2 linked regions of the Homo sapiens genome follow. Each later gene encodes a partner of the first gene's protein in a complex. Each region holds a gene or a part of one and is shown in the gene's direction. Other genes may lie near its edges. The genes, in order: XPO1 and XPO5.

Region 1 (8,078 bases):
GGAGAGAATATAAAGAAGGTTAACATGTATTTTTATAATCTGAAAAATCCCTTGTGTGTGCCATAAATAGTCCAGACTTGCATACAAATATAATGCAGTTCATGAGGCTTTTGGTTAAAAGTTTATTCAGGCCCCGATTGCAGTGCGTCCTCTCTTTTAAATTCATATATCCAAACCCTACTACATTTCAAGGCTCAAATTGCATCCAATAATAAGCTGTCTTAACCGGTCACTTTTTATCACCAATGGTTAATTAAATCCTTGAGTCTCCTAGGATAATTTCTTCTTTTCTTGTTTGAAATGGAGTGTCGCTCTGTCGCCCATGCTGGAGTGCAGTGGCACCGTCTTAGTTCACTGAAACCTCCACCTCCCAGGTTCAAGCAATTCTCCTGCCTTGGCCTCCCCAGTAGCTGAGACTACTGGCCCGCGCCACCACCCCTGGCTAATTTTTGTATTTTTAGTAGAGACGGGGTTTCACCATGTTGGCCAGGCTGCTCTTTTTTTTTTTTTTTTTTTTGAGATGGAGTCTCATCCTGTTGCCCAGCCTTGAGTGCAGTGGCCTGGTCTCGGCTCACTGCAACCTCTGCCTCCCAGGTTCAAGAGATTCTCCTGCCTCAGCCTCCCGAGCAGCTGGGATCACAGGCACACGTCACCATGCCTCGCTAATTTTTGTATTTTTAGTAGAGACAGGGTTTCACCATGTTGGCCAGGCTGGTCTTGAACTCCTGACCTCGTGATCCTCCTACCTCGGCCTCCCAAAGTGCTGGGATTACAGGCACGAGCTACCACGCCCAGCCTGGCCAGGCTGTTCTCAGACTCCTGGCCTCAAGTGATCTGCCCACCCTGGCTCCCCACAAAGTGCTGGGATTACAGGCATGAGCAACCGCGCAAGGCCTCCTAGAATAATTTCTACATATCTATCAGGCAGATACTAATACACAGACAGACCCATTAGACGGATTGGACCTTTCATTAGGATAATTGAAAAGGGTCCTGCGGTGATTAAGATAAAAGACTTTGTGTTTTGTTTTCTACCCAGTAGGGTGAAGAGGGTGGCACATTTCTTCCTTTAATAAAGGAGGAGAAAATGAAAAGTGATTTATCCTTACTCCTGCCTTTATCCATTACATAATTTCTTTGAAGTTTGTTTTATTTGCCTTTGAGAAATGAAGTGCGATTAACATTTCATGTCTTGTTTTAGATACTGAAACAAGAATGGCCCAAACATTGGCCAACTTTTATCAGTGATATTGTTGGAGCAAGTAGGACCAGCGAAAGTCTCTGTCAAAATAATATGGTGATTCTTAAACTCTTGAGTGAAGAAGTATTTGATTTCTCTAGTGGACAGATAACCCAAGTCAAATCTAAGCATTTAAAAGACAGGCAAGTAATAATTATGTTTTAGAATTTTAAAGTGATTTCTCAAACAATTTCAAGCAGTTTGGATGTAAATTGTAGATATTTTAAGGAACTATGATCAGTAATATGTTAAATTGCTTGTAGTGGTTTTCAACTGCAGATTAAGAAATAGTCCTAGACGGGGCCTAATAATTTACCTCTGAAGGTTGAAAAATGAATTGTTCAAGACACACTTCAGGAATTGTTTTGTATGGTAACTAGTTTAATAGGTTCTAAGCAAATGATTTGTGTCCAAACATACGTATTAGTTATTTTATTTTATTTTGAGACAAGTCTTGCTCTATTGCCTGGGGTGGAGTGCAGCAGCGCAATCTTGGCTCACCACAACCCCCACCTCCTGGATTGAGGTGATTTTCTTGCCTCAGTTTCCCAAATAGCTGTGACTGCAGGTGCATGCCACAGAGCCTGGCCTCAAATCAGTTATTGTCTCTGCTTCTTTTCAGTTCCCCAATTGTTAACAATAGTGTTCTTTTTAAAACAAAACAGAAAACTAGATTTGCCTCTAATAGTAAGCAACTGGTATAAACTATAGTTATACTTCCATTAAGTTTTAAACATTTGTTGTAGTCATTAGGAAATCTTTTTCCCCTTGGGTTGCCCAGGCTGGTCTCAAACAATCCTTCTGCCATGGCCTCCCAAAGTTCTGCGATTACAGGCATGAGCCACTGTACTGGGCTTTAATCATTTTTATTAGTATTATAGATAACTGATACTTATTTCTGTGTCTTCTAAATCTGATATTTTTGTGTGTTTTTTTTTTTAGCATGTGCAATGAATTCTCACAGATATTTCAACTGTGTCAGTTTGTAATGGTAAGTGTTTTTAATTTCATTTTTAAAAACAATAATAGGAAAGCAATTATTTACAAGTGTGTTTTGTTATAGGAAAATTCTCAAAATGCTCCACTTGTACATGCAACCTTGGAAACATTGCTCAGATTTCTGAACTGGATTCCCCTGGGATATATTTTTGAGACCAAATTAATCAGCACATTGATTTATAAGGTACAGTGAATACATTTCAGTTATTTGTCACCGGATAGCCACATATATTCTTTTCACATGTAAAGCTCTCATCTCTGCATTCTAAACCTTATTCAACCTTGTTTCTAACACGAGGACGCTGCTCAGGAGAAATTTCCCATATTCACACCTAGTAAATTATTTAAAGTGAGTTTCAAATCTGATTCTGCCACTTAGACCATGTAATTTTATGAATTCATTTTGAACAATGGATTTGATTATATTGCTTTTAGTTTGAGTAAGTTACAGTGAGGTAAGTCAAGTGCTATTTCTGAAAAATGAAAAGTTCATCTTTTAACTGATAATTTAAAATTGATACCATGTTATGGCTTAAGTTCTATAATGGTTTAGCCTGGGCAAGTTGGTGAAACCGGTCTCTACTAAAAATACAAAACAGCCAGGCGTGGTGGTGTATGCCTGTAGTCCCAGCTACTCGGGAGGCTGTGGCAGGAGAATCTCAAACTCAGGAGGCAGAAGGTGCAGTGAGCCAAGATCGTGCCACTGCACTCCAGCCTGGGCAACAGAGCGAGACCCTGTCTCAAAATAAGTAAAGTTCTACAGTGGTTTATCCAGAGATAATCACTGTTACCAGTTGGTTGTATTATATTTTCAGATGTTTTCTTGACTGATATAATGAATAAATTAAGTATCTAATTGGAACATTATAACTTGACCTCTTCAACTTCGTAGTTTAGTTTGGTAAGATAATATGGATTTATAGTATTTGAATGATCAGTTTATTGCTTAATTATGTAAAAACCTTTCTATTGTCAACAGTCCTACAGAGAACATTCTCAGACATAAGATATTATGCAATTGTCCAAACATTAATTTATTTAAATATTTTAATGTTTAATCACCAGATTATTAGGTATGTTTAATTTTAAGGTTTTAATGCCCCCTGATTTCCAACCCCAGACGATAACTGTTTATCTTCTCAACAATAGAATATATAAGCCAATTTTCCCATATTCTTATTACTCTTAGATACATTGACCATTTCCCAAAATTCTAAGCAATCACAAGTTTTAGGTCCTGTGTAATTACACAGAAAGTATAACATTCCTAAAAGTCATATCACAGATTCTAGGAAAGTTGTTAAGGAGCCTTGTTATTTTAGGACACATCAAAAGAAAGCAGTTTAGGCCGGGCGCTGTGGCTCACGCCTGTAATCCCAGCACTTTGGGAGGTCGAGGTGAGCGGATCACGAGGTCAGGAGATCGAGACCAGCCTGGCCCAACGTGGCAAAACCCTGTCTCTACTAAAAATACAAAAATTAGCCGGGCGTGGTGGCATGCATGTGTAGTCCCAGCTATTTGAGAGGCTGAGGCAGGAGAATCGCTTGAATCCAAGAGGTGAGGTTGCAGTGAGCCGAGATCAAGCCCCTGCATTTCAGCCTGGGCGAGCGAGACTCTGTCTCAAAAAAACAAAAAAAGTTTGCTCCTAAAGCATTTACTGTATACTAGGTAGGCAATAAAATTCCCTCTCAGTATATCTGCATGATAAAATATGTTCATTCACTTGGCCTGTTTTTGACATCTACCCCTATATTTAATTGTTAAAGCCTTTTTCCTTTTAATTGTGAATTTTAAGTAAAGTGTGTATCAGGCCAATTAATTTTATGGTTCCCTCCCCCCTTTTAAATAGTTCCTGAATGTTCCAATGTTTCGAAATGTCTCTCTGAAGTGCCTCACTGAGATTGCTGGTGTGAGTGTAAGCCAATATGAAGAACAATTTGTAACACTATTTACTCTGACAATGATGCAACTAAAGCAGGTAATATAATACTATCTTGAAAATTGGCTGAATAATTTTAGTGCCTTAGAAAATACCAAATTCCAAATGAGTTATTTTAGAACGACGTATCAAAGATAAGCCATAATCTTTTGTTTATTACATAAAATTTGTAGTAAGCTACAAATTTTTATGATGTTTCCAAAAATTTCTTAAAATTCAGGTTTGGGGTGTGTTGTGGTAATTTATTTCTGCACACTTTAGGAGCTTGGTCTTTTGGGAGATACCTGACCAGACAGTGGGAAACCTGGGACTTGTTCCTAACATTGTGTCTGAAGGAATTCTTTTCAGCCCTAGTTTGATTGGTTATCTATTAAATGATCTAGAAGGTTATTCATAATACTGTGTTCATGGCCAGGCATGGTGGTTAATACTGTAATCCCAGAACTTTGGGAGGCCAGAATGGGAGGACCAGTTGATGCCAGGAGTTCGAGACCAGCCAGGACAACATAACCAGACCATACCTACGAAAGATTTAAAAAATAGCTAGCTGTGGTGTTGCACACCTGTAGTTCCAGCTACTCTGGAGGCTGAGGCAATAGGATCGCTTGAGCCTATTAATACAAAGTTAAAATGAGCTATGGTCACACTATTGCACTCCAGCCTGGATGACAGGGTAAATCCCTGTCTCTTTTAAAAAACAAGGAAAGATAGATTACTATGTATGTTTGTGATCTGAATGAATGAATTGATTATTTTTACATTTTTCAATGTCAGTGAGAAATACTAGAAAAATTTAAAGGCTGTGATAGCGGCCTTTAATTTATTTGAGAAGAGTCAAAATCTAAGTCCTAGAGATATAAGAATAGGTATACTGGACCTAGGAGTTCTGTATGTGGTTTAATATTAGCAAAAGGGTGTTGGGATATTAGGGCTTAAAAATAATAGTGTTGGCTGAGTGCAATAGCTCAGACCTTTAATCCCAGCACTTTGGGAGGCTAAGGTGGGAGGATTGCTTGAGCCAGGAGTTTGAGACCAGCCTGGACAACATAACAAGATACCGTCTCTACAAAAATGTTAAAAATAAGCTTAGTGCGATGGCACATACCTGTGGTTCCAGCTACTCGGGAGGGGCTGAGGAGGACTGATTGGGCCTAGGAGGTGGAGGCTGCAGTGAGCTTTGGTCATACCACTGCACTCCAGCCTGGACAGAGTGATACCTTGTCTCAAAAAAATAATAATAAAATATTAAGTGTCTTTAGTTGTTTTATAAAATGCGAACTGATCGTCCCTTTTAAAATTTGCAGATGCTTCCTTTAAATACCAATATTCGACTTGCGTACTCAAATGGAAAAGATGATGAACAGAACTTCATTCAAAATCTCAGTTTGTTTCTCTGCACCTTTCTTAAGGAACATGATCAACTTATAGAAAAAAGATTAAATCTCAGGGAAACTCTTATGGAGGTAAGATATGTGGAGCTTTTGCTCCTAAAATTCTGCTCTGCCTACTAATAACTCTTAAAAGTGCCTTTTTCTAAAATGTATGTACCTTTTGAGATTTCTTATTACTTAATATTTGATCAGTACATTATATATATTCTCAATTCTGAATTACAGTTATAAGCCCAGTTTTCTGATTTTATGTTCTCCATAAAGCTAGGACTAAAAATTTATAATCAAAATTAAATTACTAATTATTATATCATTTCTAAGGTTAAAATTTCAAAGACCTTATTTTAAAATTTCAGTTTTAATTCAAATAACATGCATTTGTTCATTTAAAGATATACAATTCATCGTGTAATCCCAGCACTTTGGGAGGCGGAGGTGGGTGGATCACTTGAGGCAGGAGTTCGAGACCAGCCTGGCCTACATCGTGAATCTCTGTCTCTATTAAAAATACAAAAAAATTAGCTGTGCGTGGTGTCACATGACTGTAATCCCAGCTCCTCAGGAGGCTGAAGCACAGGAATTGCTTTAGCCCAGTAGGCTGAGGTTGCAGTGAGCCAAGATCACAGTACTGCACTCCAGCCTGAGTGACAGAGCAAGACTCTGTCTGAAGGAAGAAAATGTCTCTCTCTCTCTCTTTATATATATATATAAACTTAAGTATATATATATATAAACATAAGTATATATATATATACACACACACACACAATTCAGTGGCATATTAGTATATATACAATGTTATACAACCATTAATACCTAGATCCAAAACATTTTCATCACCCGAAGGTGACCCTTTACCCCTAAAACAGTCACTTTCTCCTTTGTTCTCTCCCCAACTTCTGGCAACCATTATTTTGGTTTCTGTCTCTGTAGATATATCTATTCTGATTATACCATATAAAGGGAATCATGCATGTGACCTTTTGTGTCTGGTTTCTTTTATTTGGTGTTGTGTTTTCAATGTTCTTCCATGTTGTAACCTGTATCAATACCTCACTTTTTATCATGTCTGAAGAATATTCTCATTGTATGAATATTCAGTATTTTGTTTGTTCTCTCCTCTGTGATGGTACATTTGGGTTGTGATACCACTTATTGGCACCCAAGGCCTTTTAAATAAATGTCGTTCCATTAGGAGACATGATAAAAATACATATTGATCAACTACTATGTGAGAGATTTTTGAAGTGCTTTAGGGCATGTCAGAAGAAGCAGAGTTACTCCAGAGTTTGCTGTCTATTTGATAAGTATTGAAATCTGAGTTGTGATGAATAAAACATGAATTTTTATTTTCCCTTAAGGTGTAACAAGTGAAAAGCAATTTGAAGTTGGTAATGTTTAAGAATTATTTTAACAGTTTTGGTCTTCTGTGTAGGCCCTTCATTATATGTTGTTGGTATCTGAAGTAGAAGAAACTGAAATCTTTAAAATTTGTCTTGAATACTGGAATCATTTGGCTGCTGAACTCTATAGAGAGAGTCCATTCTCTACATCTGCCTCTCCGTTGCTTTCTGGAAGTCAACATTTTGATGTTCCTCCCAGGAGACAGCTATATTTGCCCATGTTATTCAAGGTAACAGAGCGGTTGGTTGAGTGTTCTTCCTGTTGCATACTGTGGTTTTGAGGTCTGAATCCAAATACTTCTAATCTGTGTAAATAAATTAGCTATAAAAAGAGAACCCAACAACTTCTCCATGAGTGTGGAAAACTAGAACATGAAAGGAGTTGAGTCTAGAACCTTGATTCTCAAGAGTGTGGTCCTTCTCTCAGTATCAACATTGGTTGTGATTTCGTTAGGCAAATTCATTGGCCACCTGCCAATCTACTAAACCAGAGTCTAGGAATGAGACACAGGAAACTCCTGTAACAGAAGTTGGTTAAAAAAATCACATTAAAACACACTTAAATAATTATAAAGCCATTTTTGTAGAATTACAGTGAAAAAAAATTTTTTCTTTTGGAGACAGGGTCTTGCTCTGTGGCTCAGGTTGGAGTGCAGTGGCGTGGTCATAGCTCACTACAATCTTGAACTCCTAGACTAAAGCAATTCTCTTGTGTCAGCCTCCCAAGTAATTGGTTGCAGGCACACACCACCATGCCTAGCAAATTTTAAATTTTTTAGTTTTACTTCATTTATATTTACATAGTTTTTTCTGTTGTGCTTTAAGCCCCAGTATTTTTATTGTTTTAGAGATTGGGTGTCATTTTGTGTTGCTCAAGCTGCTCTCAAATTCCTGGCCACAACAGTTCTTTTTGCCTCGGCCCTCCGGAATAGTTGGAATTATAGGCATGAATCCCTACACATGGCTGGCTTGTGGTTTTTTTGGTTTTGTTTGTTTTTAACTAAGCTTCTACACTAATGATTTCAGTGATCTAACGATTTTTTTCTTGATTGATATATTGTTGAGTATAGGTCCGTTTATTAATGGTTAGTCGAATGGCTAAACCA
Region 2 (8,626 bases), on another chromosome or scaffold:
CCTCTGCCCTGCCGAGACCCCGTCTGGGAGGTGAGGAGCGTCTCTGCCCGGCTGCCCCGTCTGAGAAGTGAGGAGACCCTCTGCCTGGCAACCACCCCGTCTGAGAAGTGAGGAGCCCCTCCGCCCGGCAGCTGCCCCGTCTGAGAAGTGAGGAGCCTCTCCGCCCGGCAGCCACCCCATCTGGGAAGTGAGGAGCGTCTCCGCCCGGCAGCCACCCCGTCCGGGAGGGAGGTGGGGGGGGGTCAGCCCCCCGCCCGGCCAGCCGCCCCATCCGGGAGGGAGGTGGGGGGGTCAGCCCCCCGCCTGGCCAGCCGTGCCGTCCGGGAGGGAGGTGGGGGGGTCAGCCCTCCGCCCGGCCAGCCGCCCCGTCTGGGAGGTGAGGGGCGCCTCTGCCCGGCCGCCCCTACTGGGAAGTGAGGAGCCCCTCTGCCCGGCCAGCCGCCCAGTCCGGGAGGGAGGTGGGGGGGTCGGCCCCCCGCCCGGCCAGCCGCCCCGTCCGGGAGGGAGGTGGGGGTGTCGGCCCCCCGCCCGGCCAGCCGCCCAGTCCGGGAGGGAGGTGGGGGGGTCAGCCCCCCTGCCCGGCCAGCCGCCCCGTCCGGGAGGTGAGGGGCGCCTCTGCCCGGCCGCCCCTACTGGGAAGTGAGGAGCCCCTCTGCCCGGCCAGCCGCCCCGTCCGGGAGGGAGGTTGGGGGGTCAGCCCCCCGCCCGGCCAGCCGCCCCGTCCGGGAGGTGAGGGGCGCCTCTGCCCGGCCGCCCCTACTGGGAAGTGAGGAGCCCCTCTGCCCGGCCACCACCCCGTCTGGGAGGTGTGCCCAACAGCTCATTGAGAACGGGCCATGATGACAATGGCGGCTTTGTGGAATAGAAAGGCGGGAAAGGTGGGGAAAAGATTGAGAAATCGGATGGTTGCCGTGTCTGTGTAGAAAGAAGTAGACATGGGAGACTTTTCATTTTGTTCTGCACTAAGAAAAATTCCTCTGCCTTGGGATCCTGTTGATCTGTGACCTTACCCCCAACCCTGTGCTCTCTGAAACATGTGCTGTGTCCACTCAGGGTTAAATGGATTAAGGGCGGTGTAAGATGTGCTTTGTTAAACAGATGCTTGAAGGCAGCATGCTCGTTAAGAGTCATCACCAATCCCTGATCTCAAGTAATCAGGGACACAAACACTGCGGAAGGCCGCAGGGTCCTCTGCCTAGGAAAACCAGAGACCTTTGTTCACTTGTTTATCTGCTGACCTTCCCTCCACTATTGTCCCATGACCCTGCCAAATCCCCCTCTGTGAGAAACACCCAAGAATTATCAATAAAAAAATAAATTTAAAAAAAAAAAAAAAAGATTCTTTCACTCAACAACAATCAATAAGGTAGACTTCTGTGACCAAATGTGTGAGGATTTCTCCCCACCAACAAACAAGCAATCAATTCTGCAGCAGACACCAAGTGGGTATCCTCCAATTCGAGTCTGACATTATCTACCTGGAGAAAGCGTCAGATCTCACAGGTTGATGGCTCAGTCCCACAAGACTGCCCCCTACTTCTGATGCCAATCACAAGCCACAGGTTGTTTTACCTGTGCTTCTAACTGACTGGATATAAATTGGGAATCTCATGAGCCCCTCTTTGGGTTCAGTTAATTTGCCAGAGTGGCTCACAGAACTCAGGTAATCAAATTTACTAGTTTATTATAAAGGATATACAGATGAAGAGATACACATGGCAAGGCATGCCCTCCCTGGGAACACCACTCTCCAGGAACTTCCTTTTGCTCCTATCCAGCAGCTCTTCGAACCCTCTCCTCTTGGGCCTTTTATGGAAACTTCATTGGATAGGCATGACTGACATCCGTGTAGAAATGTGACTGGACAAAAAAGATATGATCTAATACTAATAGACTGGGGAAACCCAGCAAGGCCTGTCCAGATTCTTCCTGGCCTCTCTGGGTAGCATTCCTTTCTCCAGGGTATGGGGTAGGAACTCTTCTGAAATGAAAGTCTTATGACCCATAATCAGAAAGGCAGGGGAAGATTAGAGTCCTGCTTTGGGCAGGTGAAAGGAGGGCAGAAGGCCAGAGAGAGATTCTGTTTTCTGAGGCTTGCTTCAAGAGCTCCAACATTATAACGAAAGCTAGGGGAGTTATGAGCTAGGAACCGTGGACAAAAACTAACATACATATATCACAATATCACAGATACTCAACCTGTACTGCTGGCATAAGGATAAATTAGTACAATTTTATGAAGGCAATAGGTATTAAAAGCTTTAAAAATACTTATCCTTAAAAGAACTAACCACAAAATACAAACATAGCCAATTGGCACATAAAAATAGGCTCACCATCATTAGTCATGGGGAAATGGAAATTAAAATGCACATCACCAGGGGAAGAGAACCAATACGGAATCAGTTGACAGACAAATCTCAAGTATAAATTCAGAGAAAAGAGAAGGAGAAAATAATATATAACATCATAGCATTCATGAAAAATGTCAACCTTTTACTCTGAAATACTTTTAGACTTACAGAAAATCGCAAAAATGGTAGAGTTCTCCTACTCCCAGTTTCCTGATGTTAACATCTTACTTAACACAATTACCAAAATTTAAAAATGAACATTGGCATATTATTAACTACATACTTTACTGCCCCCCAATCTGTGGCATTTCCTCGGTTGTTCCTTGTTTTTCATGACCATGACACTTTTTTTTTTTTGAGACAAAGTCTCGCTCTTGTCCCCCCGCCAGGCTGCTTTAAATACTACTGATATTTGACTTCCACAACTATATATACTAACTTAATTGGTATGGGTATGACCTGGGCATGAGTTTTTTGTTGTTGTTGTTGTTTTTGAGTTAGAGTTTCGTTCTCGTTGCGCAGGCTGGAGTGCAATGGCACAGTCTCGGCTCACTGCAACCTACGCCTCCCGGGTTCAAGCGATTCTCCTGCCTCAGCCTCCTGAGTAGCTGGGATTACAGGCGCACGCCACCACGCCCGGCTAATTTTTGTATTTCGAGTAGAGACTGGGTTTCACCATGTTGGCCAGGCTAGTCTCTAACTCCTGACCTTAGGCGATCCACCCACCTCGGCCTCCCAAAGTGCTGGGATTACAGGCGTGAGCCATCGCGCTCGGCCTAGCATGGGGATTTTTTTTTTTCCTAGACAGAGTCTCCGTCTGTCACCCAGGCTGAAGTGCAGTGGTGAGATCTCAGCTCACTGCAACCTCCATCTCCCGGTTTCAAGTGATTCCTCTGCCTCATCCCCATTAGCTGGGACTACAGGCGCGTGCCACCCCGCCCGGCTAATTTTTTGTATTTTTAGTAGAGACGGGGTTTCACCGTGTTAGCCAGGATGGTCTCGATCTCCTGACCTCGTGATCCGCCCGCCTCGGCCTCCCAAAGTGCTGGGATTACAGGCGTGTGCCACCGCGCCAGGCCGGGGATTTTTAAAAGCTCTCCAGGTAATTCCAATATGCAGCAGTTTGGGAGCCAAGACCTAAATAAGACAATCGAAACACCAGCAATCCATGATTTAAATACGAGAAACACAGGTTATACAGTTGAGTGAGCACCCAACTGTATTCTAAAAAAAGTTTTTCAAAAACTAACATTCACCTTGAAAAAAAAAACGTCTTACAACTGCAAAGCAGGAAGGTGAGTGGAAAGAAAAATAATTAAAATCAGAGCAGTCAAAGCATTAATTCCTTATAAATTCCAATCGACCACGCCTAAAACAGGCAGAATGTGATACTTTAAACATTTACAAGTTAAAACTATAACATGCCAGAAGTCCCTCTACTTTGAAGTGGCTTTTCAGTAGTACTGGAACAGACTGAGCCAACAAATAGTATTGTAACACAAAAAAACACAGGCTAAGCACCATATTAGATCCAAATACCAGAAGTGGAGCAAGAATAGGAAGCAGTGATTTATGTTCAGCACACAATTTACTAAGCACACAATCACAAAAACAGACATGCAGACTTTAACAGATAATAAAGCTGTTGAGGTTTTCCGTTTATGTATTTACTGGAGAAAGCAAGAGCTTTATTTATTTATTTTTGAGACGGAGTTTCGCTCTGTCGCCCAGGCTGGAGTGCAAAGGCGCGATCTCGGCTCACTGAACCTCCGCCTCCCGGGTTCAAGCGATTCTCCCACCTCAGCCTCCCGAGTAGCTGGGATTACAGGCGCGCACCGCCACGCCTGTATAAAAATACTAAAAATGCAAACATAATTTTTGTATGTTTAGTAGAAACGGGGTTTCACCATGTTGGTGAGGCTGGTCTCGAACTCCTGACCTCAGGTGATCCGCCCGCCTCCGCCTCCCAAAGTGCTGGGATTACAGGCGTGAGCCACCGCGCCCGGCCAAGAGCTTTATAAAGATGGAAAATGAAGAAGACTTTCTGCCCAAGCCATGCTTTTGGATAAGGATTACACTACTTTGAAACCTTATACATAGCACTTGGCCAATTATCAAAACTGCACAAACCTTCACTGATTGCAATTATTCCCTTTAAACATCTCGAGTTACCCCAATCCGCACAAAACAAGTTTAGTGCCCACCAGGTAATAATACATCCAGGAAAGTAATTCCAAGAGAGAGGTTTAACAACTACAGGGAAAAACATACTTTTTTCTACAAGAAAAATCTTAGAAGACAGTACCAGGGCCTTATCCCTGTTAGCATGATTTATATTTCACGCAACCTTGGCCCAGTCACTGCTACATTATAAAACCAATAGCCAAGGCAACATAGAAAGTCTGAACACAGTGACAGCGAACGGTTCTAAATTTTCTTACCAAGGTAACAAACACCTGGCAAAACTGCCAGCAGCGGTTGCCGAAAATGCTGGGTTCGGTGCCTACTGGAAGGAAAATGGAAGGGCTCCTGAATATCTTTTCGCCTTTCTAGGAGCGGTCCAGTGAGTTTCGAGCGAGATTTATTCCCTGTGACGACGGAGAAACCGAGAAGGGATCGTAAAGGATCCTGCCCGGGCAACCGTCCCCAGCAGGGATCAGACGAGAGCGGCGCGCCCAGCAATGCAGCCGCCAGACTGAGGTCTGACAGCGCGCCCGCTGCGAAGGGCCGTTGACGCGGCTGCGCACCGCGGCCCTTCCGCCTCCCGCCCCGCCCACCTAGGCTCAACCTGCACACGGGAGCCGCCACTTCCGCGGGCGCGTGCGCAGTGGCGGGCCGGGCGCGTGCGCAGCGCCGGCTTCTTCCCAGCGCGAGTTGCTGCTAACGCTCCTCCTCCAGCTTCCCACCCCCGCCGCCCGCCGCGGCCCGGTACCAACGGGTGGTCTCGCCGAGGGAGCTGTCGTGCCTCGTGGTCCCGGGACTGCAGTGGTGTGCGCTCTCGGCGCGTGGCGCTAGGCATGGCGATGGATCAAGTAAACGCGCTGTGCGAGCAGCTGGTGAAAGCGGTGACGGTCATGATGGACCCCAACTCCACCCAGCGCTACCGGCTGGAAGCCCTCAAGGTAGCTGGGGTCCTGGCGTCCTGGGCCGGTCCCGACACCCTCTCCCAGCCCCAGCAGCTCCGGCGCCGCCTGTAACTGGGGTAGTCTCCCGCCCACGCGGCCCCTGGACCTCCTTTCCCAACTCCCCGGGACCTTCCCCTCGCGGCCCTCCGCGCCTCTCCCAAATCGCCGCCTTCTCTACTCGCCGCTCCTGTCCTTTGCCTGGGACACTCCGGTCCCTATGCTGCTTCTCATCTCGCCGCAGCTTCCCACAGCCCTCTCCTCCCCCTTTCCTCGCTTCTGTGCACTCTTGTCCGCAACATGACCCTCGCCCATTTTCATTCCCCAAGCCCGACATCCCCTCGCCTTCCCGAGGCGCACGTGTAGATCCCGCCCCCAACACCAGCTTCGTTCTTTATGGTCTCTCCTGCACTAAACGTTTTCCTGCTGGCCCACTCCCCTGGCCCTGACCGAGCTCCAGCCCCTCTGGTACCCTTATGCTTATATGCTTTAACATCTCGCTAACTTTCGTTTGTGTCTTGGACATTTTCCGGGGAAATTCTCGCACCCCTACTTCTCCCATGTTTTTGAGTGTAATATTTTTAGGCTATTTTGCGCAAAGATAACTTCTACCACTTACTTTGCATTTTAACAAGGGCACTTTGGTTTCCTGAAAGTAGTTTGCGTGAGACCCGAATGCTCTGCTCTTGGGACTGACTTATGTTGCAGTTTGGGGGTGTTAATACAATTCAAGCTTACTTGCCCATAAAACAACGTGTGTGGGCTGTGAGAAATGGCCATTTAGGAGAAAATACTTGTGCTGTACATTTTTAAAGTGATGTTAACTTCAAAAAAGAGAGTGACCACCACTTGGAGGAAATGTTACAATATGTAGATGTCTGCCACAGGGTTTGGAATCAGAAACAATTGGGTTCCATTAGTTTGGTTTTTATTATTAATATTTAAAATAGACACAAAAGTGGAGAGAATACGACAGTGATTCTGCATGTTCCTGTCACCTAAATTCAGCAATCAAAGATTTTACCGCATTTACTTTTTCCACCGCCTATCCTCTCTCCCTGCCTCGAAGGTTTTTAAAAGAAACCCTAGAAATTGTTATTTCACCCCTATGTACGTCAGGGGGATGTCTCTAACAAATAATTTCTTATTCCTTTGTGTCCATTTTTTTCCAACACTAGTAGGGCTACTGTTGGCCGTAGCATGGAAAAAATCTGGAACCATCACGCTGGAAGGAATGTTTATCAGTTCTTTATTCATAATATATATATAATATATACACATAAAATAGAGTGAACACCACTTGGAGGAAATGTTATATATGTGTAACTTTTATATATTTTATATTTTTATTTTTATATTAAATATATATTTTTAAAGCAACTGTGCTTGGAGATCCACATAATATTGATCTAGGTTTTGCAACTTTAAACATATAGCTTAGGTTGGAGTTTCTTTTTGAGTAGGGTCTCACTCTGGTTGTCCAGGCTGGCGTGCAGTGGTGAGATCTCGGCTCACTTCAGCCTTGATTTCTCGAGCTCAAGTGATTCTCCTACCACTTCAGCCTCCTGAGTAGCTGGGATTACAGGCACCTGCCACCATGCCCGGCTAATTTAAAAAAATATTTTTAGTGGGCCGGGCACAGTGGCTCACGCCTGTAATCCCAGCACTTTGGGAGGCCAAGGCAGGTGGGTCACCTGAGGTCAGGAGTTCAAGACCAGCCTGGTCAACATGATGAAACCTTGTTTCTACTAAAAATACAAAAATTAGCTGGGTGTGGTGGCGTGCACTTGTAGTCCCAGCTACATGGGCTCAGGAGGCTGAGGCAGGAGAACTGCTTGAACCTGGGAAGCAGAGGTTGCAGTGAGCCGAGATCATGCCATTGCATTCCAGCCTGGGCGACAGAGTGAGACTCCGTCTCAAAAAAAAAAAAAAAAAATATATATATATATATATATTTAATAGAGATGGGGTTTCGCCATGTTGCCTAGGCTAGTCTCAGACTCCTAGACTCAAGTAGTCCACCCATCTCAGCCTCCCAGAGTGCTGGGACAGGTGTGAGCCACCGCACCCGGCCCTGGTTGGAGTTTCTTAAGATGAAATTCTTTTAGTCCCTATTCTCTCAGCCCTCGAAAGGAAACACTAACTTTTCTTCTTTCAGTTTTGTGAGGAGTTTAAAGAAAAGTGTCCTATCTGTGTCCCCTGTGGCTTGAGGTTGGCTGAGAAAACACAAGTTGCCATCGTCAGACATTTTGGCCTTCAGATCCTGGAACACGTTGTCAAGTAAGGAGCTCTTGGACATTACCACTGAAGTCTGAGAGAACAGATCTTTATATCTTATATAACCTATAGAGATGCTGTTTAGGTGAGTAGAGAAGAGCAATCTCCAAGAAGAGAGGAATGATCCCCTAGATGTTATCAGAACCTCACAGGAGCTCTCATTCAAGATTTAACCTTTCTTTTCTTCAGTTTCTTCATCCATGTAAAGTGTGTGGTACATATTACCCATTCAACAAATATTACCTGCCATTTAGCCAATACTTACTGAGCTCTGACTATATGTCATTAGCCCTCGAAGCCTTTTTAGAGTAATGCAATGTATAGGTCAATGAATCTCTGATTAGGCACTGTGGCTTTCTTTTTTCTCTCTGTCTTTCTGAGTTTGTGTGCCTTCTCTGGGTGGTACATCCAAAGCAGGATTGTATGAGAATAACTGAAAACCCATCCTAACTTGATTGTCCTACCCTCAACACCTATCAGAAGAGGTAGCCTTTAAGACTTAGCCATAGTTTTTCCAGAATTGTTTTGTAAGCCAGCACAGAAAATGACTGATGTCAAAACTGCATTTTCTGAAAAGCAAGTACATTGTTGCAGTTGACCTAGATGTATATTCACTTTTGGCCCATCAATAAAATCATGAGGCAAAGCTGACGTGTGGTACAAATCTTGTGCGGATTCCAGTTAATGGACCACTGCATATATAAAACCTTTTCCCAAGAATTTTTGTGTTAGTATTTTGGTTAAATGTAGATCATTTTTGCCCATTCATTGACAGGTACAAAATCAAAAGTATAATTTCTTAATGAAATCTCCAGTGTAATCAAATGTAGAAATCCATGCTATTCTCTTGTAAAGACAAGACTTCTAAAGTGG

The links.
Region 2: XPO1 (region 1) and XPO5 share a complex: the UniProt entries of both Homo sapiens proteins name them as parts of the nuclear export receptor complex.

The regions. Positions count from the first base shown.
Region 1 is NC_000002.12:61,493,018-61,501,095, reverse strand, and holds part of XPO1 (exportin-1), read left to right. Parts: intron 1-1,201; coding exon 1,202-1,383; intron 1,384-2,182; coding exon 2,183-2,231; intron 2,232-2,303; coding exon 2,304-2,423; intron 2,424-4,088; coding exon 4,089-4,217; intron 4,218-5,482; coding exon 5,483-5,641; intron 5,642-7,004; coding exon 7,005-7,202; intron 7,203-8,042; coding exon 8,043-8,078. UniProt on the Homo sapiens protein: Mediates the nuclear export of cellular proteins (cargos) bearing a leucine-rich nuclear export signal (NES) and of RNAs.
Region 2 is NC_000006.12:43,572,610-43,581,235, reverse strand, and holds the start of XPO5 (exportin-5), read left to right. Parts: upstream 1-5,197; 5' UTR 5,198-5,371; coding exon 5,372-5,476; intron 5,477-7,634; coding exon 7,635-7,756; intron 7,757-8,626. UniProt on the Homo sapiens protein: Mediates the nuclear export of proteins bearing a double-stranded RNA binding domain (dsRBD) and double-stranded RNAs (cargos). XPO5 in the nucleus binds cooperatively to the RNA and to the GTPase Ran in its active GTP-bound form.